Linked DNA regions of Homo sapiens: region 1 is reported to be linked to region 2. Evidence: microRNA targets listed by miRTarBase, many of them from high-throughput screens and not tested one by one. Region 2 holds a microRNA gene; the other region holds the end of a gene's coding sequence.
Evidence for each region. Region 2 holds the annotated microRNA hsa-miR-5687 (UUAGAACGUUUUAGGGUCAAAU, at 812-833, opposite strand). A microRNA usually pairs through its seed, bases 2 to 8, with sites in the 3' UTR of a target mRNA and lowers its output. Matches are read on the target gene's strand: a 7mer-m8 pairs with bases 2 to 8, a 7mer-A1 pairs with bases 2 to 7 and ends in A, and an 8mer does both.

Region 1 (3,000 bases), not on the chromosome of region 2:
GCGGCCGCTTCCTGCGCATCCGCCAAACGGTCAACCGCGGCGGTGGCGGCTTCGGCGCGGGCCCCGGGCCGGGCGGCTTGCAGAGCGGCCAGACCATCGCGCTGCCTGCGCAGGGCCTCATCGAGTTCCGCGACGCGCTGGCGAAGCTCATAGACGACTACGGAGGCGAGGACGACGAGCTGGCAGGCGGCCCGGGAGGCGGCGCCGGGGGCCCAGGGGGCGGCCTGTATGGAGAGCTCCCGGAGGGCACCTCCATCACCGTGGACTCCAAGCGCTTCTTCTTCGATGTGGGCTGCAACAAATACGGGGTGTTTCTGCGAGTGAGCGAGGTGAAGCCGTCCTACCGCAATGCCATCACCGTACCCTTCAAAGCCTGGGGCAAGTTCGGAGGCGCCTTTTGCCGGTATGCGGATGAGATGAAAGAAATCCAGGAACGACAGAGGGATAAGCTTTATGAGCGACGTGGTGGGGGCAGCGGCGGCGGCGAAGAGTCAGAGGGTGAGGAGGTGGATGAGGATTGAAACGGGCAGCTTCCCCTACAGGCCTCCACCCAACCACCATCCCCTTGGCTAGAGAATTCCCTTTCCTGCTCATCCCCAGTGAGCTAGTGGAGAGGGAGCAAGGGAGGCCGCAGAGGGAAAAAACAAAACGTAACACAGTTAAGAGAAATAATCGTAAGAGAACAGTGACGGACAACTTGAGAAAAGCAGTCAAGTTCCAAGGAACTGACAGCAACCTGCAAAGAGGAAAACAGCATCTCCTCACCTGCGTAAAATTGTCTCAGCTTCTGTTGTTTCTCAACTGAGGTTCGTAAACCCATCAGGATAATCCCTGGAGGGAATAGATCCTTGCACATCCAGGGCAAGAAACATGTCCAAGTTACCCAGACCATTGATAACAGTTGCATTTAGGTTGCACCTGGGTAATCTGGCATAAAAGATCTCTCTAGGCCTCACTGTTGCGGTGTCTATCCCTTCACCTCCATTGAAATCAGCATTTTGGATCTAGGTCTTCATGGAATCCTTGAGAAGAGAGGCCTTTACAATTACCCAGTTCTGAGGGTTCAGGTTCACGAAAAGAAATGCAACTTGGGATAATCATGAACAGGTTAAAGATAAGATTTCAAGAAGCCATCTAAGAATACAGAACCAAATTGGATCCATTTTTTTAAAAAAATGGTTTTGCATGGAACCTGGACCAAGGCAAATGTCTTTTCTTCGCAGAATTGTTTTCCAGGATGCCAGTGGATTCAGATAGCAATGCTTGGAGTAGAATCCGTTACTAAAATAGTTTCAAAGTTGACAAAAAATTTTCAAAGATAAAAGCAGTTTTACATTGGGGGTTGCTGAGGTAGGCACAAGAAAAAGTCAGGCATAAAGCACAAGGCAGACTGTTTGAGTGGATTGGTTGCTGCTCACTAAAGTTGTTCCCCTGATCTCTAAATATGGAGGTCATTACCAAGAAATGCTTTGGTATGAATGAGAGCCAGATCTCCACTGTGTGAGCCAGTGAATTATGGCTAATTCGGCTGTTACAGCCACTGGTTGGCTGGATTTTAAACCATAAAACTTGAAGATTACCTACAAAAGTAACAGTGTGGCTATAAGCCTGAGCTTTAATGGATATACATCCTCACAGAAAAGTTGGAAATAACCAAAACTGAAGTCTTAATTTACCTTCAGTTTAATCTGTGGATTTGTTCAAATACTAAAGATCCTCAGGTCCAGAATTCCAGCATCATTTATTCTTTTAAAATTTTTAAGAACTTGATCCATTGTATCAGTACCTCACAATCAGAGTTGGCAAATGATGGATGAGTGATTCAAGCAGTGCACCCGGTGGAAGCTGAAATCCATCTGTGAATGGAACTGAAGTGAACGTGAATATGCTGACTATATCCTGGAAGCATTTTTATACCATCTTGAAATTTCAACAAACTGGCTTTTGCCAGTTAATCCAGCTGTCTTTCAAGAATAAAAGTTGGGGTTTTCAAGGATCGCCTCTTCTATATTTTAAATGGATTTTCAGTAGAAATGATTTTTACTAATCAAGTTAATCCCACCCCATCAAAAGGTATTCCTAGAAATGTCATAGACCTAGGTAACTTTGAATTGAATGGGAGCTAACGTTCTTTCCAAAGTTTTCAGGTATTCTTTGTGTGACACCTTCTCAACCAGGAGGCAAGTAACCCCGCCTCCACAATCTTAGTATTTTTTTTAAACTGCATGCCTGCCCCTTATTTGAGCTGCCTTTTTAATTTATTGCATATCCTTTTTATTATCTTATTTTGGTATTATTCAATCTATACAATCTTTTTGTATTTATTGGGAAATGAGTAATATACAAAAAGGTTTTCATGTATTTGTGGCTGAGAGGGCGGGAAATAATTGTGTACATAAAATTAGGCTTTTTTAAAAAAATAGATTATGATGCAGAATATTGTTGATCTTAGATTAAAAAGTGGAAGAGCCACAAACATTGGTGCCCTTTTCAGACTATTTCTCTACTCTCATCATCCACAGTAGAATTTTTAAACAGATTTTTTTAAAGCTTTTCTTTTAAATTTTTCTCCGTTGCAAAGAATGTTTCCTAAATTGTATGGGAGCAATAGTATTTTTGATGTTTTAATGACATCCGTATACTTGTACTGTATTTTGTACTACAAGGCAGCTGTTTTTCAATAATGTCCTGCTGTATTTACCTACGTGTTTTGAGTGTCTATTTCTTTGCTGCGGAGAACAAATTCCTAAATAGTTTTAGTAAAGGAGCTGAGAAGCTAGCATTAGGTTTGCAGAAACTATTTAAGTTTCAACTCTGAGGCAGCAATGAAAATTTAAGTTGCAGCTATTAGTTGATTGCTGTAACTTTTTCATTTTCAAACCATGTACAATTCTTGTATAGACCAACTTGTTTTCTTGCTTCAGTGGTGGTTCTGTTGCTCAGCTGCAGTGAGCCAGTTCAATTTTGCAAAGGTGCAGTACCTCTCCTTTTTAAGGGGTT
Region 2 (3,000 bases):
GGGTTTCACCATGTTGGCTATGCTGGTCTCAAACTCCTGGCCTCAAGCAATCCTCCTGCCTCAGCCTCCCAAAGTGCTAGGATTACAGGCATGAGCCACCATGCCTGGTCTAATAATTCTTGACAGAAGGCCATGCCCAGTTCGCATGACCTCCCCAAAGGGACCCAGGGCCTGCTACTCTCCACAGCTATACAAATGAAATATGAAGTTTATTTCTTCCCACTTCCCATTCTCTTTGGCCCTGATGGAAAAGATATGGCAAGCAGGAAGAAAGTGAGATAAGACACTGTGGGCACCTCTATGTGTCTGGCACCATATTGAATATTTATTTTCATTTAATTCTCATAATTCTAAAACACATGATCCAAGAAGGCACAGACATTTCTGTTTTGTTCACCAATATATCCCAAGTACTTAAGTCATTGCCTAGAACAAGGCAGGCCTTCAACAAATATTTGATGAATGAACAGTCATCCTGCAAAACAGGTATTATTATCCCCATTTTAAAGATCTGGGAGTGGCTCAGAAAGGACAAGTAACTTAATTAAAATCATACATATAATAAACAGGGTGAAATTAAAAATATTTAATAACTCATACTTGTACCAGCATCGGCCACTCAGAACAGACACTAGCTGGTGCTAGAGGAGCTGGGTTCTGCTTCAAACTTTTAGCTGAGGTATCATAGGGAGGTCCATAGAAGGGACTAAGACAATGAAGAGTCATGGGGCAGGGGAAGTGAAGACCCAGGTGTACACTGGCTGTCAGCCTCAATAGTTAAGTGGTGCACTCAGGATTCCAACCTGTACTTATTTGACCCTAAAACGTTCTAAATAAAGTGGGTACCATTTAGAAGATTTCAGAGTCAGATAAGTGAGGAGAGCAGAGAACAACTAGAGCTTTTAATAGAGTAGAAAAAAACTAGTCAAAACAACTACAATGTGAAATGGAATTAGAACTGAATTTAAAAATTGGTAACTGAACTCAATCTGCTGTTAGACAACTAAAAAACAGGATGATTTCACTAAAGTAACGTAGAGGGGAATGAGTAACAAAGAGAAATAAATGTGAATGGGCAAAGCAAAACTACAGCATGAAGGTTTTCAATTTCAGGTAAACAATTTGTGTATGTTTCAATAAGAAATGAAAAATCAACACTGGTTCTTGAGCAAGAAAGCTGTGCTTCAGGACAATGAATTTGTGCAAGGTATTGGTAGGGAAGGGGCAGAGCCTGGTGGCAGGTGAGAGGTATCAGTGATAGCACTGTACAGTATATTTGAGTGTGATTCACAGAGATGTTATGAAAAGTGTTAACAGGCAAGAATTCAAAGAACAGTGCACCCTCAACTTTTAGAGGCACCTACATTCTGGTCACTTAGCTTACAGTCACCATCTCTCTGTGGCTGACATGGTTTTATTATAAAAAGTTCTTCGTTATCTTTTCTTTTTTATTTTAAAATTAGGATAAAAGGGAGAAAAAGCAGTTGGGATATAGGATATAAGTGACACTTACCAAAGATGGTTTTTACATTTGTAGTTTTACGTCAGTAATTGCCTACAATATCCTCAACCTTGGAGTAGCTTAGTTCATTAAGACACTTAAAATAAATTTGTGTATATATTTAATGAGCTTTTAAAAAATCACGAGCTATTAGGGCAAGTTACTTCACTATGGACTCTCACATTTCCACACAAATAAAAAACAAGTTAACCTATTTATTTATACACTAACAAAAACAAAAAGCAAACCTTCTCACCTGTTGTTCCCTTCCCAGAAAGGCACAAGAAAACAGTGCCAACTGGCCAAGAACAACATTAATTCCTTCCACTCCCTCATGGTACAGCTGTTCGCTTTCTTTCTCTTCCCTTTTAAGATGGCAAAGGTCACAATCAGTAGTAAACCGGCCACGTGATTTTTATATGTCAAAAGCAAGGAGATAACTGAGGTAAAGGGTACTGGGAGAGACAGCTGATTTTTTTCAATTGTACTTTCTCCTGGCCACTTATCGGGAAACTATTTAGGGCTTCCATGGTATTTGAAGCTATAACTTAATAACTTCTTTGCCAAAAAACATTCTGTTTACATGGAACTAGGGTTAGAAGTGATATAAGCACATTTAGAAAGGGACAAAAACCTACAGCAAAACTGTACAGTAACATTTACATCACAGTACTTGGCATAATCAAAAACGCATTATGCTATGTGAAAGAGACTAGACTCAAATGGCTACATACTATATAGCCTTTATGATTCCATTTATATGACATTATATGACATTCCATTTATATGACATATAGGATAGAGAACACATCACTGTTTGCCAAAAGTCAAGGCTGGTGGGAGGAGCTGACTACAAAGAAGAAGAATGAGGGCACTCAGGGAGGTAACACACCAATTCAGTATCTTGATTGTATCTGGTTACAGGACTAAATTCCATATTATCTGAATTCACAGAACTGTACACTAAATGAGTCAATCTTACTATACATTTTTAAAACACAACAATTAAATTTTAGCTTAAGCCTCATCTCACCTACTCCTCATACCTATTTCAAACCTCTTGACATGCTCTACACAATGACCCCACCCCCTCCACCTAGCTAATGCCTACTTGCCATTCTAGCTTCCATTCAGCTACTGGTGGAACCAATCCTTTGGTGTGCCAGGGTGGAGTACTGGACAGAGTTGGGTAGTCAAGTATATCTGGCTGGGTTTACTTCTGGCTTTCTCCCAGTTACTACTTGTGGGAGCTTGGGCAAATTACTTACCTGTCTGAGCTCAGTTTCCTCATCTGGTAAGTAAGAATAATACTGTGTACATACCTCCCAGAACTGCTGCAAACTAAGAGCCTAGTAATGTGCCTAACTTAGTGCCTGGCACATTAAGAGGATTAATAAATGCTTACTCCCTGATCTTTCTTCCCTGCCTACTGCCCTCACAACCCCTGCTCTCTTTCCGAGCCCCCATGGACCTTATACATATATAAACCTATCACAACA

Region 1: the mRNA of PURB is a reported target of hsa-miR-5687. The part of its 3' UTR that is shown has no 7-base or 8-base seed match.

What each region holds. Positions count from the first base shown.
Region 1 is chr7:44,881,931-44,884,930 of GRCh38, reverse strand. PURB (purine rich element binding protein B) reads left to right here. Exons shown (of 1, transcript NM_033224.5): 1 at 1-3,000. The coding sequence ends at 521. Among named protein-coding and RNA genes, the nearest start is that of MIR4657, 1.6 kb to the right of the region's middle. RefSeq lists an enhancer at 1-329.
Region 2 is chr5:55,508,048-55,511,047 of GRCh38, forward strand. It overlaps MIR5687 (microRNA 5687), which reads right to left and starts at 879; the gene lies at 803-879. The region is part of intron 1 of PLPP1 (phospholipid phosphatase 1); the gene reads right to left.